Linked DNA regions of Homo sapiens. The protein of the gene in region 3 interacts with the protein of the main gene of each other region in a pairwise test. Each region holds a gene or a part of one and is shown on either strand. Other genes may lie near its edges. The genes, in order: C14orf180, CMTM3, SLC71A2 and MS4A1.

Region 1 (8,682 bases), on a different chromosome or scaffold from region 3:
GGGCCCTCTCCAGAGATGCACCTTCCCCTGGGCCACGCTCTGCTCCCAGGCAGCCTCCCTGAGCCCTGAGGTCCCCTCTCCAGAGATGCACCTTCACGTGGGCCACGCTCTGCTCCCAGGCAGCCTCCCTGAGCTCCGCGGTCCCCTCTCCAGAGATGCACCTTCACGTGGGCCATGCTCTGCTCCCAGACAGCCTCCCTGAGCCCTGCCATCCCCTCCCTAACTGGGCTTCACGCTTCCCCTTCTGGAAGAGAGGTCTGGCTCAAGTCCTGGGCTCTGTCCTTCTTTGGCTCTGTGACCTCGGGTAAGTGGTGTGACCTCCCTGGGCCTCATTTTCCCCAGTGGAAGCAGGGAAGGAGTGGCTCTGGCATGCTCGGCAGGTGGGGGCGGGGAGGCCTGGGGCCTCTGGCAGGGACAGTGTGTAACTGGAGGCCTCGTGACAGATGGGAGATAAAGGGCGGAAAATAGCTTCAGAGCCTGGACCTGTAAGTGTCCCGCTAGGCCCGCTGCTGGGGAGGGCGCGTCCACCCGAGGGGACTCTACCCCCACTCTGGGAACAGGAACCCCATGGCGCCTCCCTTGGTGCTGGGGGGCTGGGGGGTTCTTACCAGCTCCTCTACTGAGAGGGGGCACCGAGCTCCCTGGCGGAGGGGAAACTGAGGCCCAGAGAGGGAGAACAGCCTGCCAGGTTTCAGAGCCTGGGTTGGGACAGAGGCGGGAGTCAGGGCCCGGAGCTCCCAGTTGTGGGCATGACCAGCCCGTACTGCTGGTGGGAGGTGGGGCCATGAGGGCTGAGGCCCAGGACCTTGGTCTGGGGTGTGACCCTCCAACAGTCTTTGGGGGTCTAGCCCAGTACCCCAAAGACCCCACCTCATCTTGAAGCTGCTGAGAGACGTGAGGGCACTGATGGAGCCCAGCGGCCGTGGCAGTGCCGAGTCCCTCCCCCTCGAGACCAGCCTGCAGTGGGGCGTGGGGGCGGGCCAGTGGTTCTTGCCTGGTTCTGTGGCTTGGATAACGCCAAGCTCTGGGGCCCAGCCACTGCTGCTCCCTCCCACTCCTGCCCCGTCCTCCAGGACGCCGCCCGCTGGCTTCCCGCCTCCTCCCAGGCTGCTGCCTCTGCCTGGCCCGTGCCGCCCGCCCTTTTGCCCACAGCCCACCTCCTGATGTTTCTCTGTCCTCCCTGAGGGTTCCTCGGGGCGGGCAGTGCCCCCCATGCAGCAGCTGGCTCGTGAGAAATCCTGACATCCCACCCACCCCACATGGGAGGTCCTTCCTCGGCTCTGAGCGTGCGGCCCCACACTCCCGGCTCACCCCTCGCCTGGCACTGCCCTTCCTCGGCTCTGAGCGTGCGGCCCCACACTCCCGGCTCACCCCTCGCCTGGCACTGCACCCATTCACACGGCAGCCTCACAGCCTTCCAGGGGCAGAGGGTCCCGGGGCCTGAGCGAGTGCAGGCTGGGGCCAGGCTCCCTGTTTCCCTGTTCCAGGTGCAGCCTCCCCCAGGGCAACTCACTTGGGAGCTGGAGACAGGGGGCCAGGCTCCTGGGAAGCCAGAGACCTCCCTGGGAGAAGCTGGAGACTCACAGCCCCCACCCCCACCACTTACACACACACACATACATACTCTCTCTCTCTCTCTCTCTCTCTCTCTGCCCCTGCCCACCTGGGCTCCTGCTGGTGCTGTACCTCCGGGGTGGCTCAGGCCTGATCAGCCCCGAGATCCACTGGCGGTCACAGCCTCGCTGTCGCAGGGTGTGAACCAGAGCTGTTGCGGCTCACAACCAGCTGAGAAGTTTCCATTACGGCGACACTGAGCAGTGGCCTCAGCGGCCCTGAGGGCCCCGGCTGACTTGCTGCTCTCGGGACAGCCCGGTCCATGGGGAGGCCGTCAACCACGGGCTTGGTGGCCCCAGGAGGAGCTGGGCCTCCTCAGTCTCCCAGCACCTTAGTAGTTTGGCCACAGGCCTAACCCAATGGCCCTGGGGCTGCAGATGCAGGTTGTGCCTTCTTCCGGTGGAAGAAGACTGGGACCATGGACACTGCCTCGCTGGCCTTTCCTCTGCAGGGCGGAGGCAGAACACAGCCAGGCGGGGTGGCTGGGCTCCTGGGAAAAGCCTTGGCTCCCAGCCCAACGCTCACCACTGGAACCACGCTGGCAGCTCCCCAGACAACATGCGTTCTCGACTTAAGTAAGAGGGAGAACTTGTGGGGAGGCCCCTGGCTGGGCTGACCGCCCACTGGGCTTGCTCAGGTGCCTGCAGGCCCTACCAGGTAGGAACAGGAGCAGGAGCTGCCTGGTGGCCCCCTGAGGCCCCTCTCCATGCCTAGATGGGCCCTCACATCCCGAGGTGCAGTTAGGGCTCGAGGTAGCAGCAGTACCGGGTGATGGCTGCTCATCTGCTGGGTGCAGGGGCCACCCTAGGCCTCGAGAGCTCCAGACAGACAGGGCGGGGGACCCCCCCAGGCCCTTCCTCCCATATGTGGAATGGGGGCTGTTTGCCAACTGTCCAGGGCACTGCAAAGCTCAGTAGTGCCCAAGAAATGGCGTGGCGTCCAGTGCTGGGTGGGGGTCCCATGGCCACACAGGGCAGGACAGGGATTCCTTCTGACTGACGGCTCAGAAAAGAGCCAGTTCTCAGGGATTCCCAAACACTGAGAACTAGGCTTCAGTTACTGGAGTAACGAATCCATTCCTGCTAGGCTGGGCCTGCGTAGACTTGCCCTCGGAGGATGCCCCCCACCAAGGCCCTTCAGGGAAGGCTGGCTGGGTTCATGCCTGGCACGGCTGCCTGCATTCCCCTGAGAGTGCAGCCCCTTCTCCCACTGCCCAGGCTGTTTCGCGCAACATCAGGTGCCCTTTGGAAGCTCCTGTGTGGCCAGGAGCACCCCCGCTGCTAAGTTTGAAGTGGCCGTGTTCCCTGCTTCCCCCAGAGGCGGCCTGGCCTCAGTGTGGACACAGGGCCGGCCTGGGACTGTCTCCGTTTTAGGGAAACCATCAGTCCCAGGAGAAGGGGGAAGGGTGGCCACTCTGGAGCTTGTTCAGGTCACTCAGGATCATCAGTGTGTGCTCTGCCCAGTCTCTGCCCACACCTGCTGCCCAGCTGGGGCAGGTTCCCCACCTGCACCTGCCTTTGGCAATCTCTCCGCTCTGCCCAGTCTCTGCCCACACCTGCTGCCCAGCTGGGGCAGGTTCCCCACCTGCACCTGCCTTTGGCAATCTCTCCGCTCTGGCATCTTCATACCCAAGCAGGAAGTGAGCCCCCTCTCCCTGGGGCTGGAACTCACCTGGTTCCCTCCTGGCTCCCCGAGGGACAGAAACAGGCTCTTCGGGATCTCCCTGTGGGGCACAGTCCAGTGAGGTCCTGGACCCTCTTGGCCGGCAGCACCCCTCCCAGGCCCTTGAGAGTTGAGCCTCGGGCAGAACTGCAGGGCACACAGGTGAACGGGCCAGGCCCGCCCAGGCCTCCTTCCCGAGGGCTCTGATCTGGAGGCGCCACCGCCCGCTGGCAGGGCCGGGTCTGTTGTGGCCTTCGTCCCGTCTCCAGCCCTCTCTGCTGGATCGCAAAGCTGGGCCAGCTGGCAGCGGCCAGGCTATAATTACCTCTCCCCTTTGGCAGAAATAGCAGTGAACCCGAGGACAGGCCGCTGGCCCCGGAGCAGAAGGGGGTGGCTGTTTCCCAGGCCCCCGGTGGACAACAGACCATGATTTCAGATAAGACCAGAGTTTGCTGCTGTTCCTACCCCTCCCGGCCCAAATGTGCCCCCTCCCAGGTCAATTCCAGAGCTGTGCAGCTCTTGGAAAAACCTATGGATTGGAATTCGGGGCAGAGTGGGAGAGGGAGGGCACTGTGGGGCTGCGGGAGGTGAGGTGATCACAGAGTCCAGCCTCCAATAAGACCCTGACCCAGCATGGGGCCTCCGTGGTGGCGAGAGTGCCCGCCCTGCCCCAGGCCCCTGTGCCCCTGTGAGTCCTGACCTGGGGTTGCCAGAGGGAGAGGCAAAGAATGGGTCCCAAGCTGCCGTTTTGGGGCACACTGGCCGACCCTCGATATTGCCCTGGCAGGAAGGGGCAATGTATGGGTCAGTGAGCGATGGCAGGGGTGAGGGATCAGCCTTTCTCAGGGTCTGTCCTGGGTGGGCGTCCAACTGCCCTGCCTGGCGCTGCTGAGTCTGCCCCTCATTTGTAGGTGAAAGTGCAGCTCAGAGAGTTGAGGCACCCTGTCCAGAGTCACACAGCCCGGAGGTGGTAGCCTGGCTCAGGCTTGGTGGCCCGTCCTCGCCAGCCCCCCCGTCTGCTGGTGCATGTAAAGGCAGGTCTGAAAGAGGCTGGTGAGGGCATCACTGGCGCAGGGCACCACCACATGTGGGCAGACCCCTGCCTGGTTTGTGGGGCTTTGACCTGTTTCAGGGGACTGCTGGAGGAGGTGTGGAGAGACCCGTGTTTCTCCATTAGGAATGGGGGTGCATCTCCCTTGGGTAAAGCTACAGGACCCCTGGGAGCCCAGGGTGTGCCAGGCTGGGGGACAGTGTGCACAGAGGGTGACTGCTCAGGGCCAGCCGTGGGGCTGCATGGACACAGAGTCCTGGAACCCACCGTCAGAGCATGAGCAACGCAGCCACTGGGATGGGGTTCAGCAGACCGGCCCTCCCCTCACTGCCGTCTTCAGTACAGGGCATGGGGGAGCAAACTTTTCTCTTACAGGGCCATATGGCACACAGTGCGCTCTGTGTCTACACAAACGGGGTGGGCCAGATTGGCAGGAGGGCCTTGGCTCGCTGACGCTTGTTCCAGGGAGAGCACTGAGGAAGGCTGGGTGGTCCTGCTGGCAGTCTGGCTTCCTGGGAAGAGTGAGGTCCTGTAGCCAGACAAGACCCTCTCCCGCCTGTGCCCAATCTGGGCGCTTATCCTTGGCTTCCCAGGGCTGGAGCTGCTCCTCCCAGATTTCAGAGGTCAGGCTGCACTGCCCGAGGTCGGGGGGCTCCGGGACAACTCCTTCCTGACCCTTCTCATTGACAGAGGGGAGGGAACGGTCAGCCCACAGACCTTGGGTGCCGCCCCCTCTCTGTGCTCCCTGGAAAGGCGATGCGGGCTGACCCTGTGGACATTCGCTCTGGGTAATTTATTAGTGAGCTGATGGCTCGGCTCAGGGCTCAGGTCCCAGCGGGGTCATATTTCCGGCCGTATCTGATAGGGCTCGGCTGCACCCTCCTCGCCTCCGTCCATTGCGCCTCACTCCAGCCTGGGCTCTGCAGGGCAAGATAAGGCTGGCCCAGGGGAGTGCTGAGCTGCCGGGTCCGCGGAGGGTCCCCAGTGCCTGTGCCAGGCAGTGCCAGGGAAGAGCCCAGTTGTGTCAGGCCTGCCTGCAGCCGGCAGGTGGGCACATGTGCCCACGGGCAGTGGTGCCAATGACGTGGTGCCCAGGTTTGGGCCCAGCTCTGTCACTGTTCAGCCAGGTGACCTCCGCCACACCCTCATCTCTCCCCGGGAGCTGGGAATGATCGGATGCCCCACCCTCCCCAGATCTTTGTGGTGCACCCACCCTGAGCAGTGCCCCGGGAACACAGCAACTAAGGCCAGCTGTCATTCAGCGGGAGGGCGGAGCATGTCCAGTGGCTGGGCACTCCTGAGCGCTGGGAAAGTCCAGCGAGCTGGCTGGGCTGGGCTGTTTCCTTGGGGTGGTCCTGGAAGGTGGCCGGGGTGGAGTAGGGCGGCACGTGGGAGTGGAGGCTGCAGGGGCTGGAGATTGTGGCTACTCTGGTCATGGCCACGTGGTGCTGGCCTAGACTCCCAGCTCTCCCTGGACCATGGTCTGGCTGGAGTGCGGAGAGCCCTGGGCCTCAGCATGGCCTCATACATGGCTCCAGGCAGGGTCGGGGGTGGGGCTGGAGGGTGTGGAGGCCCTAGGCTGACCTGGGCCAGAGAAGAAAGGGCCGGTGGGTGGGGGAGATGGGGGTGGGGTCCACAGCTGGTTGAAGCAGAAGGACCCCAGGCACAAGAGAGGCCAGCGTTGGCCCAGGGGGTGGGAGTTGGCCGTGGCCCTCTTGCGCAGAGGCCTGGAGGCTGGCCCTTCCCCTGTCTGGCATACAGCCCGGGGGGAAATTCGTGCAGGCTGGCCGACTGCAGCACCAGGGCTTGTGGTGGAAATGGGTCCAAAGGTTCTCCAGGCGTCTCCGGGGCTCAGGGCTGCACCCCTGTCAGCTGAGGCTGTCCTGAGCCCAGCTCCCTCTGTGGTAGTGAAAACGCCCAGCTGAGGCTGTCCTGAGCCCAGCTCTCTCTGCTGCAGTGGGAATGCCCAGCTGAGGCTGTCCTGAGCCCAGCTCCCTCTGTGGCAGTGAAAACACCCAGCTGAGGCTGTCCTGAGCCCAGCTCTCTCTGCTGTAGTGGGAACACCCAGCTGAGGCTGTCCTGAGCCCAGCTCCCTCTGTAGCAGGAGGAACGCCGGGCTGAGGCTGTCCTGATCCCAGCTCCCTCTGCCGTAGGGGGAACGCCCAGCTGAGGCTGTCTTGAGCCCAGCTCCCTCTGCTGTCGTGGGAACGCCCAGCTAAGGCCGTCCTGAGCCCAGCTCCCTCTGGGGCAGTGAAAATGCAGCTGAGGCTGTCCTGATCCCAGCTCCCTCTGCTACAGTGGGAATGCATCTTTGTAGCTCTCGTCTCTGCAGTGGGTCGTCAGCTGCTTCATGACCACAGGAAACCCCCTGAGAGGGCTTGGTTGAGGGTCTCCAGCTGGGTGGGGACGGTGGCTGATGGGGTCATGAGAGGCCCCATAAACCATGACCACGGTGAGAAGGCCCTGGAGAGGACTACGGGAGAGGGCAGGCAGGGGTGGCGGTGGTGGGTGAGTCCAGGGCCGGTGGAGGCCGCATGAGCAGGTCTTTGCCACTGGCACACTCAGAGCCAGTGCTAGGTCAGGAGGGACAAGGAGTGAAGTCCTCACAGGACTTGCCACGTGGTGGTCACAGGTGGGCTTGGCCCAGGCACCCTGGGGGTTGGTGGGAGTGAAGCCTGAGGGTGGGGTCCAGGAGAAGAGGAGAGGAAATGAGGGAAATGAGGGAGGAGTGTGGGTTTGGGGTTAGAGGGGCTGACGCATGCTCTGGGTGAGAGCCGGAACCTGGGCTGGGGCTCCACAGGCACAGGCTGCTCTGCACAGGGGCTGGTGGGGGGACTTCCCACCAGGCAGAGCTGTCCATGGGAGGAACAGCCGACAGTAAGGTAGTGAGTTCCCCATCACTGGAGGCAAGCAAAGGAGGATTTTTGCCTTTGGGGACTCTTCAGGGCCCCATAGACCACGGGTGGGGAGGGAGGTGGGAGGACGGGGGAGCAGACTCTGGGCATATGGGGGTGACCTGTGACGCTCTGGCCCCTGTGTCTGCTCACTGGCCCCTGACATACGGCTGCCTGGAGAGATGCTGCTCTTCCGGCTTGCAGATACAGCTAGAGTCCTGCCCCAGGTCACGGCCCGGAGTGGGAGGTCCAGGCCCCTACCATGGAGCCTGCAGCTTGTCATTCTCAGACTGAGGCAGGGCCCTTTGACAGGGCCATGTATGGTCACCCCGTCGCCAAGTCAGAGCCCTTATTAAGAATACAGGACGCATGGGCACTGCCCCCAGCCCTGAGTGTGGTGGGGGCCCTGGGTGATGACCACACTGGTTTCCACGAGTGAGAACCATAGGCTGCTGGGGCCCCCCCAGCTCCCATCAGCTGAGATAATGGGGGCCTCTGGGCCCCGCGGAACACTAACCAAAGCGGCCCCTTTCCTCCTCCTCTATTATTCATGACCTCCAAGAGGCTGTAAAAGTCCTTTTTTCTCTACAGGAGCCATCGATACGATGACAAATTTTATCTATGAAGTTGGTCCCTCCCTGAAAGCCAGTTGGCTGTCGGGGCTGTACATAAGCCATAACCGAGCCGGGGCCCCCCGAGCTGCCTGCCACAGCTGTTTTTCCAGCAGCATCTTAGGGGCTGGCTGGAGGGGCCGGGAGATCCTTCCACCACCCCGCCTGACCTGCTGAAGGTTCTGGGCTCTGAGGCGAGGCCGTGTGGGGGTCTGTCTGGGCTTCAGTGGGGCGACTGCAGGCGTGGGCCCCGGGGGCAGCCGGTCAGCCCAGGTTCCCACTGTGGGCGCCATCCCTGGTCTCCGGGCCTGAGGACCCACCGCAGGGACCTGGCTGCGGCCGGCCGGGGCCGAGCATTCACACGTCACACACAGCCTCATTCTCACACCAGAAGCGTGCATTCTCTGTGGCGCAGGCAAGCCACACATCTGTGGACATGTGCGCCGAACTGTGAGGGCCACGCTGTCCGTGTGCAAAAGTGCTACGTGCTGTAAAATAAAAATAAAACCCTAAGGCCCCAACCGACTGAACAGGCTCCTCTTGGCCAAAGGGACTCCAGAGAAACCGGAACAACTGAGTTCCCAGTCATGATGGGACAGGAGGGCAGACGTGCCTCGCTCTCCCCCTTCCCTGCGGGAGTTCAGGCAGGGCTGACCAGTAGTGACGTTAACCTAGTGATCAGAGGACTGTGACCCTAAGACTCGAATTATAAACAGGACCGAAGGCCGCCAGCCCAGGGTCAAGTCATGCACCCCACACGCCACTGTGACCTGGTGTATCGGTTAAAAGACTTCTTAATCTTCACCGAAAACATTCCTTTCTGATGACTGCACATTTATAGACAAAGCTT
Region 2 (7,397 bases), on a different chromosome or scaffold from region 3:
AGTGGCCTCCTCTGCCCCTTAAACGTTACGGATCCAGTTCCTGAAATAGGGCTGCTGTGTGGAGGTTGAACAGAGCCACGATCCTCAGGGTGGAACAAGGCCTCTGTGACACCAGCTTTGCCGCTTTGCCAGGGCTTACAAGGTGGAATGTAAATTCCACCAGGGGCCTCTCCACTCCTGCACACCCAGCTTTCTTACCCATTTTCAGCACATGTGGTGTGTGACAGTTTGGGTGGAATGTCTTGTCTTTTCCCATCAGCCTGGATAAGAATGCGGACCCGGGTCCTCCAGGGCTGTAGTCCTCTGGGCTGTTATGCAACCAGCTTCCAAACCAGGAGAGCCCCAGGGTTCCGGCTGCCTGAGGCTGCCGTGAGACACTATCCTGATGTGTAAGTGAGAGGGCCCTGGGCCAGTTACCCGACCTCTGTCTCAGTTTCTTTGTTTATAAAACAGGGTAGTGTGAGAACTAGAGCAGGGGTCCCCAACCCCTGGGCAGTGGACTGGTACCATGGGACCTGTTAGGAGCCAGGCTGCACAGCAGGAGGTGGGTGGCAAGCAACGGCATTACCGCCTGAGCTCTGCCTCCTGTCAGATTGGCAGTGGGATTAGGTTCTCATAGGAATGCGAATCCTATTGTAAACTGTGCATGCTACGGATCTAGGTTGTGTGCTCCTTATGAGAATCTAATGCCTGATGATCTGAGATAGAACAGTCTCATCCTGAAACCATCCCCTCCCACCCTCACCCCAACCCACCCGCCAACCCCCAGTCCATGGAAAAACTGTCTTCCACGAAACTGGTCCCTGGTGCCAAAAAGGTTAGGGAAATAAAGGATTAAATGGTAGTCAGATTTCACGTGTATTTTTGCTAAAACTGAAAGCTGTCAGGATCCACATTGGTGTTACCAGTTTGTACTGAAGCCTGATACAATACCCAACAGTATTGCTCTGGTTTTTTCAAGCACACACTCCAAGCAAGTGGTCAGTCTGGCTTAATTCATTATGGCTTTTTTTCAGGGTAAGAGATTCACACGCAAGAGAATAAGGCTACAAATGCTCCAAACATGGGTCCAGAACTCTGGCTCTTTTGTGAGGCCTAGAGTCACAGAAAATGCCATCTGTTAAGAAGCTGCTTTTGCATAAAAAAATATAAAAAGTTACAAAATTCCATCAAAGACAGATACACAGTATAAATCGTTAGGTGAACACAGAAGGCTGGTCTCATCTCCTGCAGTGGCCCATAGACCTGCCCTGAGGTCTGGAAGTTCACTGTCCTGAGGGTCCAGGAACTCCTGCCTGCTGGCTGGGCTCTAGGAAGAAGGAGGGTTTGGCTGGGCCCGCCCAGCTCCCCATGACACTGTCACTGTGATGCCACTGTTGTACCCTCTGTCTTCTGGACCAGTCAGTCTATGAGCTCTTCTTTGAAACAGTCTTAGACCCAGAATGGTCATCTCACCCCCAGAAGACATGGTTTCCAAGGGTGGGAGGTGTTAGTTATGGGTGCCGAGCCCCACTTCCTGGGCGACAAGGCAAAGGTCAATTTCTCCCTGCTTCAAGAATGAAGAGGGAACTGGTGCTCCTTGAACCAAAGATTCTTGGAAGGGTCATTGTCACCAAAGTGGCTGGTGTGGGCAGGAGCACCAAGTGCAGACAAACCCACCGGGGCCTGGCGGGGCAGCCCTGTCATGGTTTCTGTCTTTGTTCCTGTTAGTGAAACAGAAGACCCCCGACCCCCGCCACCTAGCAGCATGGAACACCTGCTGCCCAGATACAGACAAGGCTCTGCTTTGTCTCCTTGTGCTGGTTTTTGGCAGAGACGTTAAAGGGCTGAAGGCCTGTGGGACAGAAATGGGGAGAAGGAGTGGGATACCCAAGATGCCCTCATACGCAGCGTGGTCAACAGTGCTGAGCTGAGGGGCAAGCCTGGTAGGCTGGGCTCAGGCAGAACCTGAGGCTGTAGGGGGCCTGCTGTGTCCGCAGCCCCCTCTGCAACTCAGAAGTCCAGGCCTCCGCTCCAACGCCAGCGACCCCTGTGAGGCGCAGGGGTGGAGGCCTGTGTGGCTCAGGTTGCCAAGGCACCCGCCAGGCCTTCAGTCAGAGTCCGAGTCGGAATTCTCTTCTGAAAGGAAAGCAGAGAGGATGCTTGGCAGGAGGCTCAGGGCAGCGGTGCCTGGGAACGGTCTCTGGGGAAGCACAGCTGGGTTGCTGGCAGGAGCCTGGGTGCAGGCCTCCTGCAGCTGACTCTACCGTTCCCAGTGATCGCTGGCATCAGGGCAGGCCGCGGGCCTGAGGCCCTCCACAGGCAGCAGCCACTTTCTCTCTCTCTTTTTTTTTTGTTGTTGTTTTTTGTCTTTGAGACAGAGTCTTGCTCATCACCCAGGCTGGAGTGCAATGGCGGGATCTCGACTCACTGCAACTTCCTCCCTCCCGAGTAGCTGGGATTATAAGCGTGTGCCACCACACCTGGCTAATTTTTGTACTTTTAGTAGAGATGGGCTTTCACCAGGCTGGTCTTGAACTCCTGACCTCAGGTGATCTACCCACCTCAGCCTCCCAAAGTGCTGGGGTAACAGGCGTGAGCCACCGTGCCCGGCCGCAGAAGCCACTTGCACCTCCAGGGTGTGGGTGCGGGTGCAGGTGGGGGTGTTTCCACCCCAAGACTGAAGCCCAGGTGCCCCTTCCTCAGGCCCAGCCCCTCCGGAGTCTCCCTGGGCTTTTCTCAGCTGGGTGGGTCAGGGCTGTACCTCTGCATTCCAGCTCTACCCCCACCCCCAGGTTCAGCAGGACAAGGTGAGGACAGCTATTTTCTTGTCCCCCAAACTAAAATATACTGGAAAATCAGCAAGCCTCTTTTTAGCCATTTTATATCTTCAATCCCCCTCCCCCAATCCTTGTTTAATATTGTAATCAGAAACAATTTTATAATGGTAAGGGCCTGCCTATGAGGTGTACCTCGAGGGTTCCTGAAATCCCAGTTCTGTCTCGGAGCTCTGTAGAGCCTTCTGGAACCTCCACCCCAGAAGGAAAAGCACCAGAGTCACTAACCCCCAACCCCACCCCAGTGCTGGTTGCTACTTCCTGATGCTCATCCCCTCCCTGGCCAGCCTCTGTCTCTCAGAACCCCAGTCAGTCCCCATGAGCTGTCGCTGGCTCATGGCTGGGCTCAGGGCTGGGGTGTGGGCAGCCTAGTCCCTAAACCCCAGCTCTGTCCCTCACTCCGGTTCCTGGGCTGCACTCGTCAGATTTTGTGGGTTTTGCTATATTCAATTTTTTCCCCCCGAGATGGAGTCTCACTCTGTCGCCCAGGCTGGAGTGCGATGTCTTGATCTCAGGTCACTGCAACCTCTGCCTCCCATAGGTGATTCTCCTGCCTCAGCCTCCCAAGTAGCTGGGATTACAGGCGGGCACCACCATGCCTGGCTGATTTTTGTATTTTTAGTAGAGATGGGGTTTCACCGTGTTGGCCAGGCTGGTCTCAAACTCCTGACCTCAAGTGATCCACCCGTCTCGGCCTCCCAAAGTGTTGAGATTACAGGCGTGAGCCACTGTGCCTGGCTGCTATATTCAATTCTAACATATAAGTCAAGAATAATTTTACAGCAAAATAATTGTTACATATGTGAAACTCTCCAAATAGTAAAACAAAAAAAACAAAATAAAACCACCCAAGTTTCCACTGACGTTTACTAATTGGTCCCTGGGCTGGTTGTCTGGGATCACTTGCTGCGGGCAACTGGGAGCAGGTTGCAGAGCCTGAGGAAACCGCCTGGGAGCTCTAACCTAATATTTGCCAAGGGACGGGATGGGATGAGTGGCATTCATTTTCAGCAGAAGGACGGTTTCTGGGATTCACAAATCCCCATGGCCCCAGCACCTGGCTGTTAGGAAACCAGTGGCTCTTAAGCCTAACCTACTGGTCCTGCCTAGGGAAGATCCCAACCACAGGGTGGGGCCTGCAGGCCCTTCCAGAGCTGCCCTTGTCTACCTGTCCAGCCACAGGCACTGCCAGCACAGGGGCACATCCGCCTGGTCCAGAGAAGCATCTCCCCAGGCAGAAGCGCCTGCTGTCTCTGCTCTCAGCCTTCTTCCCTACACCGGCCTGGTCTCTTCTGCCTGCACACTCCTCTACTGCCATCTGTCAGTACCCAGCTCTAGTGTCCCCTCCAGAGCCTCGGGCCAGCTGACACCCAGCGTGGGCCTGCTTTCAGCTACTGTATCCCTCCCTCTATCGGCTCCTGTTTTACTGTCGTCATTGCTGCCCCATCTGGCCCCTCCCCTGGTACGGGACACATCATCTGTCCCTTGCCACGGTTTCTGGGTCTGACTCCTTTCTGGGCTCTGAGCTTCCCAGGACAGGCCTGGATGGGTAAGACAGCAGAGGGGCTGGGTTTGGGGGATGGCCACTCTGGATCCCAGGTGGACAGGTGCCCGAGAGTGACTGGCTGCCCAGGGGGGTCGTCCAGGGAGACTTGCCGGCCTGGCCTGAGGCTCAGCCATGCCCACTGCTTGCCCCTCCTAGAAAGGCTGGGGTGAGGGTGCACGAGGCGAATGGGACTGGCTTTGGATCAGTGCTGCATGAGGGTAGGTGAGAATGGGCTGTGAAAACACTTCCTGCCATGGGGAGAGAGGAAATGATCCCACCCCAGCCTCAAACTAGCTGGCATCCCCGAGGGAGGGCAGGCCCCTGTTGCAGCACTGCTGGGGTGATCAGGGCAGCCGCTTACCTTCTGTCTTGTGGGCTGTGGTCTCATCTGCAGAGTCCCCTTGTTTGAGGAATTTGGCCACGTCGTTAAAGATCAGGTAGAAATCAGTTGCAAACACGATGGTAGCAAAGAAGCCAAACACCTGTGGACAGGGTGGATGGGATGCATCACAGGGCTGACTCCCTGCTCCGGGAGGCTGCTGCCCCAGCCTCACGGCCCATTTCAGATCTGCTTGGACAAACAGCCCGAGTGTCAGGCACAGACCCCTGTGAGTAACGGAAGTGGGAAAATGAGCTGTGAACTTGGTTTGACAAACAGCCTTTCAAAACCCCGGGTAGAGTCAGTCTTTAATGAGAGGACTTTGGAATCATCATCGGGACCCACATGAGACCCCAGGGGGGCCCCAGCAGGGAAAGGCTCTGCCCCAGGTCCCACCCTAAATGAGGGGCTAGAGGGGCATCTGCAGTTTCCAGAGGGGTGGGGCGGCTGCTCACCCCAGCGGCTTTGGAAGCCCCATCCGAGTACTTGGCGATGGCCGTGATGGAGATAGCAAAGTAGATGAGGGCCGCGGTGACACAGCGCAGGAAGTCCTGGGGAGAGAGGGGCATGCTGCCCTGAGCCCCTGGAGCTGAGCACAGCATGGGGAGGAGGCCTGGCAGCCTGGTCGTGTTCCCAGCCCCAGGCCTAGCACCTGAGGGCTCCTATCCCATCCTGGCCCCACCCACATGCCTAGGCCCTTGTCCCACCCCCGAGGTGCCTCTGCTGCCTTGCCAGCAGCTGACACTGCCCTATCCCGGGTCCAGCGGGGCTGCTGTCCTAAGCTCTGGGCAAAAAACTGTGTGGATCAGGGTGCAGCCTGCCCTGCGATGCGGTGGAAGCAGAAGTTGGAAACACCCCCACCTGCTCCCTTCCCGCTCTCCATTGGGGAGATCTGGCTCTGGGCCTCGGCTTTGTCACACTCTTGTGGCCGATCCATTCATGGACCACAGTTTCTGCTTATCCGTCCCTAAGATGGGGACACAGAGGGTGCAGCCCTCCTGAGGCAGCAGATGCTGGATATGAAGTCAAGAGACAAGGGTTCAAGTTGAGCCTTTGCTGCCCTTTCTCTAGGACACATTTCATTCAGCGAGGTCCACTGGGGTCTGGGCCCTCACAGGTGATAAAACGAGGTCAGGGTTGCCGATGGCTGAAGTCTGGGTAAGCCCTGCAAGTCCTCAGTTAACCTGTCCTGCCCACGTGGAAATGGCTTGAATTCCTGTGGCGGCAGCTCATTCCTGTAGGCCCGGTGGGGAGCACCGGCGCCACCTGGTGGCCAGAGACCCCTCTCCGGGTTCCCTGCCTCACAGACCTGCTCTAGAGGCACCACAGCCCACTTGAGGTCACAGGGCTGCTGAGTAGTGGAGCTGGGATGATCTGAAGCTGGGTCTCTCCATCCAGTTCTAACCAACTGCAAACTCCAGCACACTAGAGAAAGGATAAGGGCCCAAGTGCACGACTCTGGACTCCTCATCTGGCCACTTTGTGCAGGGCACCCCTCCCTCCTGGGGCCCCTGTCCTCACCATCATGGGCCAGCACAAGCCCTGCCACTTGTCATTCAGCTGCATGGCATCAGCAAAGAGGAAGTACAAGGCCAGCAGGAACTCCAGCAGAGGCGCTGTGAGGAAGGCAGATGCTGAGGACGCCACATAGCAGATAAAAGTGATGAATGAGAGACCCTGCGGGGAAGGAGTTTGAGGTGAAGTCAGAGCCTTTTCATGTTCCTTGTCCAGTGCTCCTCTGAGCCAGGCCCTGTGGTCAGGATAGAGGAGGTTCCAGCAGGGGAAGCCAACTGCTCACAGTCCCGCAGCTGGGAAGTGGCAGAGCCAGATTAGAATCCCAGGCCAAGCACAGTGGCTCACACCTGTAATCCTAGCACTTTGAGAGGCCCAGGCAGGTGGATTGCTTGAGCCCAGAAATTTGACCCCAGCTTGGGCAACATGGCAAAACCTCATCTCGGCAAAATATACAAAAATTAGCCGGGCATGGTGGTGTGTGCCTGAAATCCCAGCTACTTGGGAGGCTGAGGTGGGAGGATCACCTGAGCCCGGGGAGGTCGAGGCTGCAGTGAGCTGTGATCAGGCCACTGCACTCCATCCTGGGTGAGAGAGAGAGAGACCCTGTCCGCACCCGCCCCTACAAAAAAAAAAAACCCAGCATGGCCCAGGCTCACACCTATGCTGCCTCCCAGTCCTGGGCATGGCCCTGAGTCCTCACCTTACCCCACCCCAGCTCCCTGACAGGACCTAGTCAGAAAGCCCCAGCCTTCCAAGCACATGCACTCCACTCAGTGCCCTGCGGAGGGAAATCAAAGCGAGGCAGGAACCAGTTTCCAAAAAGTAACACCCAACACCAAAGACGTGTGCTCGTCACTGAATGTAGATTTCACCTTGAAAAGAAAAAACCTTGAACCTTAATGATATGCGTCCTGAAGTGTTCAGAGTTGAAATGTCCTGATGTCTGCAATTTATTTTGTGTTAAAAGATAAAATGCCTTGATGGACAGATAGATAAAGCAAAAAAATCTTTTGGAGTTTTAATGTATTTGCAAATTTTCATAATGATAAGAAAGGAACATCTAACAGAGGGTGCGTTGGCACTGACACCTCAGGCCCTGCTGCCTTATTCATACAGGGCCAGCTGTGAAAGGTGGGGCCAG
Region 3 (7,713 bases):
GTTGATACATGTTATCATGTCATCATACGTTTGTCCAAACCCATAGAATGTACAACACTAAGCATGAACCCTAATGTAAACTGTGGACTTTATGTTAAGATAATTTGTCAATGTAGGTTCATCAGTTGTAAAAATTTCCCACCCTCGTGGGAGATGTTGATAGTGGAGGAGGCTATGCATGTATGGGGATAGGGGATATATGGGAAATCTCTATATCTTACTCTCAATTTTGCTGTGAACCTAAAACTGTTCTAGAAAAATAGTCTATTTAAAAAAAAAAAAAAAAAAAACAGGCTGGGCACAGTGGCTCACGCCTGTAATCCCAGCATTTTGGGAGACCGAGGCGGGTGGATCACTTGAGGTCAGGAGTTCGAGACCAACCTGGCCAACACGGTGAAACCCTGTCTCTACTAAAAATACAAAAATTGGCTGGGCATGGTAGTGCACGCCTGTAATCCCAGCTACTCGGGAGGCTGAGACAGGAGAATCGCTTGAACTCAGAAGGTAGAGGTTGCAGTGAGCCAAGATCGTGCCATTGCACTCCAGCCTGGTGGACAAGAGCAAAACTCCGTCTCAAAAAAAAAAAAAGATAAATTATGTTTCTGCTAATTCTGGTTAATTCTCAAGAAAAAAAAATTTCCACAGTAATTATCTTACTATAAATCATTGCATTAAAGGTGCCCTGTTTACTAATTATATGCCAGCACCTACATTTGTAACTAGAAGCAAGTTCACATGTTTTTTCCTCTGCAGTGGTTTCCTCAAAATATCTTTAGACAAATCTCCATCTTTGATTTTCCTGGTATTGAAAGGCTACTAGCCACTCACTACTCACCTGCCTGAGATAGAGAAAAAAACTTGAATACTGTCCAGCTTCAGGAAGGTATGAAAGAAACACGGTGATGCAGATTAGTAAGACAGTAGAATCTTTTCCAACTTTCTTCAACGACTGAGAATAAGCAGAAAGAACACACTTAAAATGCCAATACACATTAATGTTGCCAATGTTCTGGGACATCAGCTTCATTATTTTGATCTATTAAGATGAATAACAAAAGTCAAATGGTTAATAAAAGGAAGTTCTATCACCATCTTTCTGAGGAAGTTACAAGTCTTAATTTCAGAGGTATATATTTCAAATCATATAGCTAAAAAAAAAAGCAAAAAAATAAACCCACAAAACACACTTACTCATCTTTGTTAACACACTGATTAAAATCCCTGAACAGATCCCGAACTTCCTATAAACAGAACCTGGAAATATATTCCTACAGAACCTTTTAAGAAAATCACTTCTCTCAATTCATAATGTAACTTCTTTAAAGCCATATTCAGTACAGAGCGTTTCCGTATAGGTAAATTCACTCTATTCTTCAAAGTGTTCATGTTCAACTTTTATATCTGGTAGACAAATAAGTACGCTCCAGCCATAAGGTCAAACTGGTAAGAACTTGTTGAATGTTACAACCTTGTTGAAAAATCCTTCTTACATACATTGGATTGTTGAATAGAACAAAATGGTAAGTTAATACCAAAGGAGTGGAAAGTGCTACAGAGCTTCTAGCTCATCAGACCATAGCTTTTATGTAATTAATAAGCAAAAGCAGCTAATGTTGTTGAGACTTTGCTGGGCAACAGACACTAGGCTAGTTAATTTACACACATTAACAGTAATCCCCACGATTGCCCGGAAAAGTAAGCCACAGTAGCTCTACTTCACAGAGGAGCTTTGATGCATAACTTGATCACTACAAAGGAAGGTGGGAAGCCTAACTGGCTGGCTCCCAACCCCACTACTGGCTTCCTTCTCTAAATATTTCTTTTGGTGTCTGACATTGTGACAATAATAGAACAGGCAGGATCCCTAGGTCATGCCCTCAGGGGGTATTTTAGAAAAAGTAATTTCTGATTGATTACATGAATTTTTCTGAAAGGTAAACTTGGGGGACGAAAAGCAGAAACCAAACTGCTGGTTCTTTTTTTGTCTACAAACTTTTTTTTTCCCCAAGAACAATTTCAAACCAGGTAGGGTAGAGAGAAGGTGAGAGATAAGATATGTTTTCCAGTGACACACCACCTTCCCATGCCAAAAAAGAAGGGGGTGGAAAAGGAGAGGAAAGGGAGGGAGGTAGAGAGGGAGAGAGAGACATATTATAGAAAACAATACTCAATCTGTAACAAACAAATTAAACGTCTCTGGTCAAAATTAAAATAACTCATTCAAACCAAAGGCATTTATCCTTTTTGAGTTAAAATGAGTGAAAATGACCACTTCAAATGACCACTTTCACTTATTTTGTTTAAAAAGGATGAAAACAACCATGCAAAAAGAAACTCTCTTCCCAAACTCTCACCAAGAATTAACTAGACATTTTCTCTCTCTTCGTTTATGACATGCTTAAGTACCAATTCTATATATTTCTTAATACAAAGACTAACTCAATCCCTTACTTGCAATTAATTTTTTCTATTTTTACTAAAGAAATAAGTCAACAACTGCTAGGATCCTTGAGGCTGCACATACATACTTTCATTTGCTTGGCTTAGAAAGACATTTAGGAAAGTAAATATTTCCATATTTTTATTTACCGCAAAAGGGTCTGCTTGTTTCCAAGAAATCTGAGCTCCCCAGGAAACCGGTCTCATTTTCTCAGGCAGAGATTCTGGAACAGCCACTAAGATGAAGCAGATGTCCAGAAGAGCCACCACTGTGGCCACCAGCACAACGAGGCTGTCTCCGTAACTGGCAGAAAGATATGCTCCAATGGCCGGGCTGCTGACAAGACTAGCCGCAAAGGTGGCTGAGACCTGTGGGAAAGCACACTCTCACCCAGGGTCCCATAGGTGAACACCTCTGGGGAAAGCATATCCTTACCCAGGTCTGCCTGCTGCAGGTGCACACCTTCAGGAAAGCACACTCAACCAGGGTCCCACAGGTGCATACCTGCAGCCATGCTTCCCTGGCTTTAAGTAAGACAAAAGAAATGTGTTGCATATAAATTTTAAGAATGAAAGAGAATTAAAGTGATTTAAGAATGTGTTCATAAACTATTAACTGGAGATACCCTGCAGAGCTACAAGAGTAAAAAAGGATTATCTTATTACAAACAAAAATTGTAAAAACCTTCCCCACAAATAAAACATTAGCTCTTTGGTCTTCTTTAACTGGGGACCGGGGATGTGAGATGGTATGAAAAGAATTCCTGCAGGGCTGATGATAAAACTTACAAACTACTCAAGTACTGTGCTTGATTTAATCTTCTAAAAACACTGCACTGTTTGAACATTTTATCATTTGGTGGTCATTTCATTAGCACTGCCTGGGGTCAGGGGGAACCCTCTGCTATTCTTAGAAAAAAACTATTAACAACAACAAAGAATTTGTTGAGGTGGAAGTTGAAGCTTTTTGACTAGACAGCTGTAGATTTCTGTCTCTCTGTCACCACCTGACCCTATCCAGTATAGAGACCACAGAGCCAGCTAAGCACACCCACAACCTGAAGCCACCTTGAGCCCCTTCACAGTGCACTCCTATAAGCATGTGGAATGTCCACTTTATTTTAGAACACAATCTGGATGGTCAGATGCTTATCGGGCAAACTCCAAATTATAACCACACTAAATGTCAAATGCATATCTATAAGTTAGCTTTTTAAACTTCTAATGGATTTTATTAAAAATCCCAAAATTTCTGGCAATAAAAAATTCTTTTTCATCCATCATCTCCCAACTGAATTAAAAAACACAGTATATCTGAAATTAGTATTATACTAAAAGTACTATAAAAGCTAAAACTCAAGTATTTTTGGAGGGGAAAAAAGAATGTGGAAAATTCCAATGTGGGGAATAGGAATCCTTTGTTCAATATTTACTGAGAATCTACTATGTACCAGATGAAGAAGACAAAGCTCTTGCCCTCAGGTTTTCCCACTTTATTCAAGAATATCAGGGCAACCAAATAACTGCATTATAAACTGCAACGACAAGCAAACAGTTATGGGAACATTCCTACACTCTTCTCAGGTGTTAAGGGGGCACTGCTGCAGCATCTTCAGGTGTTAAAGGGTCTATGGCCTCATGAAACTCTATGCAAAATGTGTCTATCTTAAAGCCTAAAGTAGCCTACTTGCTTAGTCTGTGTTTTTATCTAAACTCCTCTTTCACTTAACATTCAATACAACTCTGATGAATAAATCTAAAGAATGACTTCCCCACAACAAACTCTTAGTAAGTGTTAACTCACTTATTAACATGACTAATCATTGCCGTAGCCCTGAAAGAATTACCACTTTCTTGGTTTACTGAAGAAGTCTGAGTAAGGAAGGTGTACACATTTTTATACTGTTCTTTAATGGGTCTCAAAATGCTCCTTAGAACTTGACTGACACGTTCTGTAATTAATTGGCAATAAATTCTCCTATATCTAGAAGATAGGTAGACTGCAATCCAGGCAGCCTTGCATGCTGAGTTGCTTCTGCTGGCTGGGAGCACACTTCAGCTAAGTGCCGTCTCAGTCTGGATGTGTGCGCTCACTGATTGCTCTCAATGCCCCTGTGAGTAGATATTAACCCTAACTGCCATTATACAATGAGGAGCTGAGCTGGAGAGGGTAATTAAGTCACAGGCGCTTCTGGTTAGAACTCTCTTAAATCTTTCCTGAAAGCACTACTGCTCAGCACAACAGCTGTGTGAAGGGTTTCCCAGCTGAAAGCGAGAAACAAAAATCAAATATTGCAGAAAAATGAGTATCTCAACAGGTATTTCCCATGCTGTAGAAGAAAGCTGTCCCTCACTACTCTGTTGGCCAAGCCTTATGGGCACAACTTGAACAACCTACCTTCTTGTTTTTGTTTTTTCTTTTCTTTTTTTTGGCAGGGCGGGGGGAGGTTGTTAATTTTTGGAGTTTTGGGGGACATTTTTTTTTTTGAGGCGGGTCTGACCGTCGCCAGCCTGGAGTGTAGTGGCGCGATCTTGGCTCACTGCAACCTCTGCCTCCTGGGTTCAAGCAATTCTCCTGCCTCAGCCTCCCAGGTAGCTGAGATTACAAGCGCACACCACCACGCTCGGCTAATTTTTGTATTTTAGTAGAGACGGGGTTTCACCATGTTGGCCAGGATGGTCTCGATTTCTTGACCTCATGATCCGCCCCCACCTCAGCCTCTCAAAGTGCTGAGATTACAGGCGTGAGCCACCGCACCCGGCCTATTTTTGTTTTTGGTGTTCCTGAGTGAGCTCCAAATCTTGTCTTCTTCGAAGCTTTCCTATCAGCTTCTATCTTTGTCCTCCTCCATCACGACTCTGAAGATGCCCCTTTTTAGGGCATGACATGAGAGGGACATTCAGGAGTGGAGGGAAGAAGCAAGGAGAGAGAGAGAGGGAAGGTAGAAGAGTCAGAGGGAAGTGGGGTTGAAAGAGTAGTTTTCAAACTACTGATGTCTAAAGTCAACAAGTTAAAAATTGTTGTGTTTTGTGGAATAGTAGTAACCCATTTATATGCCCATCATTGATTCAGGAAGTTATTCATTCAGTCAGCAATGAATGAGAACTTACTCTACTCCAGGAAGTAGATTTAAAAGACCCAGGAAAAGGAGATAAATAACCTAAGTTTCTGGCATTCAATCTCCCTCCAACCTATTCCCCACAACCTAGCCAGATCATCTTTCTTCTTCCACTTTCTTATTCTGAATATTTTCAAATACAGAGGAAGACGGGAGAAGGGTACCAAGCATACTTCCATGTCTCACAGGTTCAGGCATGGAACACACATGCCCACACATGCACATCCACATGCTATGCTATCTTTTCCCCTGAAACATCTGAAAGTAACTGGCAGAGTCCTGACACTGATGTAAAACGCTTCAGCTATCTTCTAACAAGTCTTTCTTCTACATAATCATAATGCCATTATCATGCCTGAGAAAATCAGAAACACTGTCAGGTTTTAATTATCAGAAAAAAAGGTCTCCTATAACTTTTGTTATTCAGCAACTATGGATTTGATGAATGAGTGAATGTAGTCCTTTTCTACATACCATGTTCCAAATGTATGTCCAAAACACACAACCACTAATAGAGTTAACAATGGATTAACATTGCTGAGGTTCAGCACCTCTCCAAATTAGGTGCACAAAGAGCTTGTGCAACTTGACTGCTTAACGCTCCTCCGGGGATCAGATAACAAGAAACAAATCAAACTAATTTTTTAAAAAATTCAAATGTTCAATTGTAATCCCCAATGTTGAAGGTGGGGCCTGGTGGGAGGTGATTGGATCATGGGGGTAGTTTCTCATGAATGGCTTAGCACCACCTTCCTTGGTTGTTAATAGTAAGTGAGTTCTTGTGAGATCTGGCCGTTTAAAAGTGTGTAGCACCTCCCCCTTCACTCTCTCTTCCTCCTGCTCCAGTCATGTGAAGATGCCTGCTCTGGCTCTGCCTTCCATCATCATGAGTAAAAGCTCCCTGAGGCCTCCCCAGAAGCAGAAGCCTCTATGCCTCCTTTATAGCCTGCAGAACTGTGAGACAATTAAACCTCTTTTCTTTATAAATTACCCAGTCTCAGATATTTCTTTACAGCAGTGCAAGAAAGGACTAATAAACTCACTTTCCAGTAAATTTCTAATACAATGTTAATTACTATTCTGGTTAAAAAATATATATAGTCTATTATCTTACCCATCCATAAGCTGTACTTCGCTCGTGCTCCTGAGTGACATCAGCTACATAGGCAAATATAACAGAAAACGTGACCGAGAAGACTCCAGACACAGAAATCATCGCAAAATACCACCTATAAAAAGATTATTTTAATGACCCAAGGGAAAGGGAGTGTATGTTCACTTTCATTACCTGAGCCAAAGACATCATGTAAAGATTACGCACCAAGAAATAAGTATACTTGTATATGTATGTATACTTAAATATATCAAAAAAAATTTAAGTTAAGACAGGAAGAAGTAGAAACATTCTAATTTCATCATTGTTCAAAGGGGGTCAGTACATGCCCCCTAAAAAAACAAAAGAAGAGGAAAAACAAAGAATAAGGGGATTAGGTAAAAGTTATATTTTTAAAGGTAGCCAACAGACAGAAAAAAAACTTCTCAAATATCCTAGCTGTAAGTAAGGAAAAGACATACAACAAATGATTTGAAAAGATCTACATAAAAGCAGAAGTCATAATGAAAAATATTAGTGTACTTAAGACTAAAAATTTATATCATGTGATAGATGCTTTTTTTAAAAACCCAGTTTAAAATTAACAAAGAAAAACCTTATAGAACAAAAAGTGGGGTTTACTCCAGGATAGAAAAATATTTTAATATTTAAAAATCTATTAATATAATTATTCATTTTAGTAGCTCTAAAGAGAAAAGGTGGGCGGATCACGAGGTCAGGAGATTGAGACCATCCTGGCTAACATGGTGAAACCCTGTCTCTACTAAAAATGCAAAAACTTAGCCGGGCGTGGTGGTGGGCGCCTGTAGTCCCAGCTACTCAGGAGGCTGAGGCAGGAGAATGGTGTGAACCCGGGAGGCGGAGCTTGCAGTGAGCCAAGATCGCGCCACTGCACTCCAGCCTGGGCGACAGAGAGAGACTCCGTCTCAAAAAAAAAAATAAGAGAAAAGGCAAATAATATCCATTAATGCTATAAAGTCATCAAATAAAATCTGACATGTACTCTTAATGTTTTTTAAAAATCTGTGGATACAATAGGAA
Region 4 (8,369 bases), on a different chromosome or scaffold from region 3:
TTTTGTAAGCCAATTCTACTTGGGCTATGCCTGTTGTAACTAATGGCAATAATGACCATGAGGGCTGTGTGTGTGTGTGTGTGATATTTCTCTGTTAAAATGGTATCTCATGGTGGCAACTATACTTCTACAAACCTTAAACAAATATTTGTATAAAATAGTAGTTTATAAAGAAACACATGAGTGCTTTCTCTGTTTTTTTATTTCTTATGGAAACTATCTTTCATATATATATCTGATTATATATATATCTGTCTCATATATGAGAGGTAAATATATTAATCGATTTATGGCATTGTGGGCTGACTGTAATGAAAAGCTTTCGTTCCATGAGAATTCATAAATACATAAAACTCGCCTACGGAGATTGGAGATTCTCGCAATTTTGCCTTATCATTAAAATAAATTGTTCACAATGACTTAGTGCCCAATGCACAGTTATGCTCAAAGACTAGTTGGTAGATTAGTAGGGGTTATGGACCACATTAGCCGCAATATGATAACAATAAGATTTTACATTTGCTGGTGTCCAAATCAGCATGAATGTTAAAATAGAGACTCAGGTGATCACTCAGTACCGCATTTAATTACTCACACTAACTCCTGCAAATATTTTTTTATTTTTAAAGGCACCCCTGTTTTCATGTCCATCCACTGAATAAGATCTCACAGCCTTTATGGGTTTTGGTTTGAATAGACTTTTAAGTCCACTCGTACCATCATGTACTGAGAAGTTTAAAAACTGCCTCACTGTTGTTACCTCATCTTCATTCTCTTCCACTCAAAATAGTTTTGCATTTTTATCCCTTCTGGCCTCCTGTGCACCTATCTCCGAGGAAGAGTGCTCTTACTTCCCTTCCCTCTGTGCTTTTCAGCCCATCTCAGTCCAACCAAGCTGTTAGCCCTTCCAAGAAATTATTTCTTCTTTGCACCTTCAGTCTCCCAATTTCTGGCAATATGTAGCAGACAGAGTTAGTCCCAGCTCTCTTGCTTGCTCCTCTTGTGGTCTCTCTGTAAGTTTAAGGTAATAGTTACCTTCCCCATTTCAAAGTATCATTTTGAGAATATGAGATAAGTTGCATTTGTTAAGGTGCTAAATACTCCTTTTATGACTAAAATGTACTTCAGTGTCCCTGAATCCCAAAGTCCTCTTCTTTTAATCTAGCAATGTCCTTGCCCACTGCCCAGGCTCACTTTTTCTTCACCGCAGCTGCTTCAAAGCTTTGCTACCCACTCTCTTCCCCCACCTCCTCTCCACCCACTCACTTCTCAATGCTTGGCAACTAGTTTCCGCCAGTCAGTGGACTGAAACTGGTCTTTGAGGACTGTGCTGTGAAGTCAGTGGTCTTTTCTCAGGCCTCGTGTCTCAGATTGTTTTATTTGTTTCTCCTGCCACCCAGGCTTAGATAGTTGGGACCACATTTCACTTTAGCTCCATCATCTCTCAGTCCATCTTCATCTTGGCTGTTGGTCAGTCAGTGGCCAAGTCATGCCATTTCTACCTCTGCAATACATTTTGCATGTGGGTCTTTTTTCTATATCCAGAGTCACCTGTGAGTTTCTCATTTCCATTCATGCTTTTCTGCCTTCAGTCTTTCTCTTTTCTAATCCATTGTCCACAAGGCTGCTACATCAAGCTCCCGATCACTGTTTTGAGTGATGCTCTTCCTGAGCCTGAACTCCTTTGCTGGCCTGTCATTACCTGCTGGAGAAACCCTTCATCTAACCCCTCAAGGCCTTTGGAATTCAGCCCTGTATGACTTCCCAAGCTCATATCCCACTACCGCCACCAGAGCCACTGGTCTATACATGTCCTCTACCTTCTTTCCTGAATCTTCTCAACTTTGAAGTGTTCCTTCTCCCTCCCTCTTTACTTTCAATCAAACTCTGCATTAGATATGCACATCACCTGAGGGCGTTCCTGCTCTCCTTGCCTGATTGCAAGGAATTCTTCAGAGCTCCTAGCTCTTTGCTTTCCTTACTAGACATCAACTACTTTCTTCGGAGAATCCTGTATCCTACTAGACTTGCATAGGGAACCTGTTTTCTATGTACTATGAGCTCAGTTACATTAAGCTGAACATCAAACTCAGCTACTTCCTCAGGGAAGCTTAACAAGTGCTCACAATGGCCAGGTGCAGTGGCTCACACCTGTAATCCCAGCACTTTGGGAAGCCGAGGCAGGTGGATCCCCTGAGGTCGGGAGCTCGAGACCAGCCTGGCCAACATGGAGAAACCTTGTCTCCACTAAAAAATGAACAAACAAACAAAACACACACACAAAAATGCTCACAATGCTGGATTAAACATTTCTTTCCACCGGATTCTCAGTGAGATTAAGCCATTTTATGGGAAACAGGGAAAGGGAATCACTTATATACTGGATTCAGAAAACAGTAATGGCATGATTAAAATTAATCCTTGTTTTCCTTCATTAGAGCTCCCCCACATCTGCAGCGCCCCCTCTTACTCTTGGTTTCCCATGTGATAGATTTGAGGCAGGATTTCATGCTCAACTTGGTGTCCACAAATCCCCTCCAGAAAATGTTAGCCTGTAAAGCCACCTATACTTCTAGGTATATTTACATTTAATGTAGACAAAAGCATTTACAGGAAGACAAATGGAGTTTTTTTCATTATGCCTATGACTGATTATTTTCTCATTTGGTATTGGGAAGTCCTAAGGGATTCAGGATTTTAGTTCCAATTTTCCTAATGTAATGGGTACCATTGCCCCCATTTTATAGATGAGGAAGCTGAGGCTTTAGAGGTTTAGTAATTTGCCCAAGGTTATATTGTTTGTTAGTGGTAGAGCTCCAGTTTGAACCCAATGGTTTAGAAACCATGATTTAATATATATGCTGCAATCTACTACTTTTGTGGAATGATTCACAGTTGACTGCATAGGGTAATTGTTGAGAGGGAGACTGATTAGAGGAGTGAGTGGGCAGCAAGCCTTGATATCGTCACCCCTCCTTAAGTCATAGAACTATTAGGAAGTCTGACTAGGGAAACTCTAGAATTAAGATCAAGAACCTCCAGTCTTCAAAACCATTCTATACCTTATCCATCACCTCCTTTAAGTCATTTAAAGAAAGCAAATTGATTCCTTACCTGAGTCTCCAAGGCCTCAAATCTCAAGGGCTGATTTGGATGCTAGCTGCGGAGTTCAGTGGGTGCAGTTTGTTTCTCAAGCACACTGGGAGGGTGAGTGGTGTAGTCCAGGCCTGAAGATGAAATCGCTGATAGACATCAGGTGACAGGAAATCAGTAGCTTCTGCTACCTTGGGCTTCGCTCCAATTACTTTGGTTTAACACTTACCATAGCTGAAGGAGGTGCAAAAAAAGTTTCTGCCTTACCAGGTTTCACTTCTTGAAAAAGACCCCAGGGGACTGCCTGGCATGCTCATGCTACCTTAATTAGAAGAACTTCTGCAGCCCCCACCCTATAAGCAGGTGTGGATGGTAGGTCCCTGAGGACAAGAAAGATTCTAGAAGTTGGTCAAAGATGGGCCGTTAGCACTGACTTTTACCTTCTGGCTTCACTTTTAGGGCTGAGTAGGTGGGCAGGAGGCATCCATGCAGAGATTCAAGAATCACTGAGGCTGTACACTTGGCAGCACTATACTTAGGGGTCCCCAAATATTGTCCTCATTGGCTCACACTTAAGTTTCTTATGAACCATGTATATATCTTGTGTCAGATTTAGCAGAAATGGCCTAAAATTATACTTTAGTGCCATAGTACATGTACCCAGCCACTCAAAGCAAGAATTAGCCTCCATATTTGGAAATATAAATTGAAATAGCACTTTTACCTCTGAACCCACCTTTTTCTTCTGTCTGTCAAGTTCCCTTGTGTCCCCTCTCTTTTTAGTCTAGTCTGGAGCTGCAGGGTCATCAAGCACAGTACTAGATCAAGTAGGGAAATGGAAGAAGTTGGTAGTGTCAGGAGAGTCTAAATATTTGGGATGTGAATCAAAGTTTTGCCCAAAGATAATGTCCTCTCTCTCCCCCTACAATATTCAACTTTTATGTTCATATGTGGGATTTTTAATTACATTTTTATTTCCCTGTTCATTGCTTCATTTTATTAGAGACACAGAGCTATAGTTAGGTAATTATTTGTTTATTTAATCTAAAGGGATGAAATATGGCAGGCAGCTCTGTTGCCTAATTCGAGGTTCATTCCTGTCTCTCTCTTTCATCTCTTCTCTCTTTCTCTTTCTGCCTCTCTTTTTAAATTTAAGATAGTTTGGAACCATAGGGTTAGATCCACTGGGTAGAAGTAGTTCTGGGGAGGCTGATTGTGGTGTGATATTTAAAAAGATGCCACTCTAAAAAAAAAAATTGTTGGAGCCGTTCATTAGGGGAACTGGCTACCATTTCAATAGAGAATTTACTTCTTCAAGAATACTCAAGTAAAGTCATGCAGTCACCTCTCAGAGATGCTGTAGAGTGAAGGAGAGTGGGAACAGAAGATCCATCATCCATTTAACATTCTAATTGAGGGTCTATGCATATCTGCTGAAATGCTTGAGTGATTGGTGATGGGAGGACAATTACCTAGGGTCTGAGTTGTGGATGATTGTGAAACCTGAGGTTTGAGTCCTGGATGGTGGGGTGGTTAGAGGCATGTGCCTTCATTTTAGTTGGCATGGGAACAGGGTCAGGACTTGGCAAATGTATGGCAGCAAAGGGGCTTGAGTTGTGGCAGCACAACCTGGTCTTTTGCATCCTTTTCTCTGTTTGAGCCCTGTATTTCCCCAGTCAGTCTCAGGTTGTTTGCTACTTTGTGGCCAATGAGATAACTTAGGTGGCTCTATGTATGATTCTTCCCAAATAAACTTGAATTTGAATTTGTATGAATGCATAAACATTTACCTTGTCTTTGCTCATTTGAATGATCAACATTTTAGTGCTTGAGTGTGTTGAAATTCTCACTACAATTTGGACTTGTCAATAGCATCTTATTTGATGTATCACCATCACTCTTCCCCCAAGGTTTGAGAATATTTTATTAGGTTGATAACATATTTAAAATATTTCTCTTTGAATTAAGCCTATTTTCATTATCTAGTGACCTTGCTTCCAAAAGACAATCTTAAAGTCTACATAAAAGTATGCCAACTTTTATTTAGTTAGTATTTTCCTGATGTGAATTTCCTTTTTATTCTCTGCACGTCCCAGCACTCCAATTTTTTTAATCATTGCCTTCTATATGAAAACTGTGTGCTACATCATAATTATTTGTGTCCTTGCCTTAATCAGCCATTGTCTCCTTGTCCCTTGAAGGCAGGGTCAGTTTTTGTGATTGCTGTGTCCCTGGCAGTGCTGAGAAGGAATGGTTCTGTTTGGCTTTTTCTTTCACCCAGGTGATTGTCCCCAGGCTCTCCAATATTAGGAAGTAACATTATGCCACGTTCTCAACTTCTCAGCAAGGCCCTGGCACCCAGAATTATCTGCTGTTGGAGGGTTCTGGTGTCAAAGAATTGGTAAGGGAGACATAGGGCTCGTCAGAGGTGAGGCTAAAGATCTAATTGCAAATAGAACTTGGTTACAGGTCAGAAAATCCCATTGTTGCACTTATAAATAATTCATAGTAAGGAAAATGTAAATTGAAATACTTAAGAACTTTATAGTTGATAGGGTCTTCTTTCTCTTCTAAGGGACTATACATTTGGAACAGCTAGGAAGGTAATATTAGTTAAATAATTCCTTTTATGTCAAGAATTGTCCACATATAAGCCTTACCACACATATAATATTGATTCTGTTTTATAATTGTGGAAACTAAATTTCAGGAAATGGAGGAAGCCATTCCCAAGTTGGAAAGCTGGTAAATGGTAAAATAAGTGATGTTTAGAGCAAGAAAATCTCAATTATAAATTTCAAAAACTAGCATTTACTAAGTGATTTTTAAGTTCCAGGCACTGATAAACTCACTTTCCATGTTTCATTTAAGGTTCACAGTAAACCCATTAGGTAGGTATTACTATTATTGCATTCTAGTCTAAAAATTTTAAGCCCGCAAAGATTAATTTGTTCAAGTGACACAGCTTTAAATGGCAAAACATTTATTATTATTCGTTTTAAGATATAAAAATGTCTGATGTACTCCCATGTGCAGATTACTGGATCACTCCCTTTGCTTTTGTGACGTGGGAATATAGCTGAAGAAAAAAATGCAATTATGACCTCATAGTTATTGAAAAGAGTTTTTTCTCTTATGTACCAATAAATATGCTATCATTGGAGATGAAGTGTTACTGATATGTAACGGTAACATTTTTCTGCAGGTGTTGACTATAAAAATATCATTATGTGATAAAAAATTTAATGAAAATAAGATGTTGTTTTGCTTTCTCAATTATATTTCTCAAAAAATTAAATAATATGTATGAAAAAGTACTTATAACAGTGAGACAAGAAACCATGTGCCCACAGCCATGATTAGAGATACAAGAGTGTCACTGATACCTTTGAAAGCTCTCAGGTTATCCTTCCCCAAGCCACCCTCTTTATCAGAGCTCACAATTATGCTGAATTTGGTGTTTATCACTCTCTTCCTTTTCATTGTATTTTGACTTTCCACATATGCTTACATTTCACACGGACATATTGCTTAGTTTTTGTGTTTTCTTTTTTTTTTTAATTTATTTATTTTTTATTGATAATTCTTGGGTGTTTCTCACAGAGGGGGATTTGGCAGGGTCATAGGACAATAGTGGAGGGAAGGTCAGCAGATAAACAAGTGAACAAAGGTCTCTGGTTTTCCTAGGCAGAGGACCCCGCGGCCTTCCGCAGTGTTTGTGTCCCTGGGTACTTGAGATTAGGGAGTGGTGATGACTCTTAACGAGCATGCTGCCTTCAAGCATCTGTTTAACAAAGCACACCTTGCACCGCCCTTAATCCATTGAACCCTGAGTGGACAGAGCACATGTTTCAGAGAGCACAGCGTTGGGGGTAAGGTCACAGATCAACAGGATCCCAAGGCAGAAGTTTTCTTAGTACAGAACAAAATGAAAAGTCTCCCATGTCTACTTCTTTCTACACAGACACGGCAACCATCCGATTTCTCAATCTTTTCCCCACCTTTCCCGCCTTTCTATTCCACAAAGCCGCCATTGTCATCCTGGCCCGTTCTCAATGAGCTGTTGGGCACACCTCCCAGACGGGGTGGTGGCCGGGCAGAGGGGCTCCTCACTTCCCAGTAGGGGCGGCTGGGCAGAGGCGCCCCTCACCTCCCGGGTGGGGCGGCTGGCCGGGCGGGGGGCTGACCCCCCCACCTCCCTCCCGGACTGGGCGGCTGGCCTGGCGGGGGGCTGACCCCCCCACCTCCCTCCCGGATGGGGCGGCTGGCCGGGCAGAGGGGCTCCTCACTTCCCAGTAGGAGCGGCCGGGCAGAGGCGCCCCTCACCTCCCGGACGGGGCGGCTGGCCGGGCGGGGGGCTGACCCCCCACCTCCCTCCCGGATGGGGCGGCTGGCCTGGCGGGGGACTGACCCCCCCACCTCCCTCCCGGACGGGGTGGCTGCCGGGAGACGCTCCTCACTTCCCAGACGGGGTGGCTGCCGGGCGGAGAGGCTCCTCACTTCTCAGACGGGGCGGCTGCCGGGCGGAGGGGCTCCTCACTTCTCAGATGGGGCGGCCGGGCAGAGATGCTCCTCACCACCCAGACGGGGTCGCGGCCGGGCAGAGGTGCTCCTCACATCCCAGACGGGTCGGCGGGGCAGAGGCGCTCCCACATCTCAGACGATGGGCGGCCGGGCAGAGACGCTCCTCACTTCCTAGATGTGATGGCGGCTGGGAAGAGGTGCTCCTCACTTCCTAGATGGGATGGCGTCCGGGCGGAGACGCTCCTCACTTTCCAGACTGGGCAGCCAGGCAGAGGGGCTCCTCACATCCCAGACGATGGGCGGCCAGGCAGAGACGCTCCTCACTTCCCAGACGGGATGGCAGCCGGGCAGAGGCTGCAATCTCGGCACTTCGGGAGGCCAAGGCAGGCGGCTGGGAGGTGGAGGTTGTAGCGAGCCGAGATCACGCCACTGCACTCCAGCCTGGGCACCATTGAGCACTGAGTGAACGAGATTCCGTCTGCAATCCCGGCACCTCGGGAGGCCGAGGCTGGCGGATCACTTGCGGTTAGGGGCTGGAGACCGGCCTGGCCAACACAGCGAAACCCCGTCTCCACCAAAACCAGTCAGGCGTGGCGGCGCGAGCCTGCAATCGCAGGCACTCGGCAGGCTGAGTCAGGAGAATCAGGCAGGGAGGTTGCAGTAAGCCGAGATGGCAGCAGTACAGTCCAGCTTCGGCTCAGCATGAGAGGGAGACTGCGGGGAGAGGGAGAGGGAGAGGGAGAGAGCAGTTT

The links.
Region 1: the proteins of SLC71A2 (region 3) and C14orf180 interact in binary tests that used the Homo sapiens proteins (3 or more experiments, as listed by UniProt).
Region 2: the proteins of SLC71A2 (region 3) and CMTM3 interact in binary tests that used the Homo sapiens proteins (3 or more experiments, as listed by UniProt).
Region 4: the proteins of SLC71A2 (region 3) and MS4A1 interact in binary tests that used the Homo sapiens proteins (3 or more experiments, as listed by UniProt).

The regions. Positions count from the first base shown.
Region 1 is NC_000014.9:104,574,607-104,583,288, reverse strand, and holds the start of C14orf180 (nutritionally-regulated adipose and cardiac enriched protein homolog), read right to left. Parts: upstream 3,526-8,682; 5' UTR 3,286-3,525; intron 2,030-3,285; exon of another isoform or gene 1,664-2,029; intron 1-1,663.
Region 2 is NC_000016.10:66,607,330-66,614,726, reverse strand, and holds the end of CMTM3 (CKLF-like MARVEL transmembrane domain-containing protein 3), read right to left. Parts: intron 6,419-7,397; coding exon 6,263-6,418; intron 5,293-6,262; coding exon 5,197-5,292; intron 4,969-5,196; coding exon of another isoform or gene 4,870-4,968; exon of another isoform or gene 4,845-4,869; coding exon 4,724-4,844; intron 2,119-4,723; coding exon 2,090-2,118; 3' UTR 840-2,089; downstream 1-839.
Region 3 is NC_000009.12:94,440,059-94,447,771, reverse strand, and holds part of SLC71A2 (hippocampus abundant transcript-like protein 1), read right to left. Parts: intron 6,788-7,713; coding exon 6,673-6,787; intron 2,809-6,672; coding exon 2,590-2,808; intron 950-2,589; coding exon 836-949; intron 1-835.
Region 4 is NC_000011.10:60,450,691-60,459,059, reverse strand, and holds the start of MS4A1 (B-lymphocyte antigen CD20), read right to left. Parts: upstream 3,214-8,369; 5' UTR 3,115-3,213; intron 1-3,114. UniProt on the Homo sapiens protein: B-lymphocyte-specific membrane protein that plays a role in the regulation of cellular calcium influx necessary for the development, differentiation, and activation of B-lymphocytes.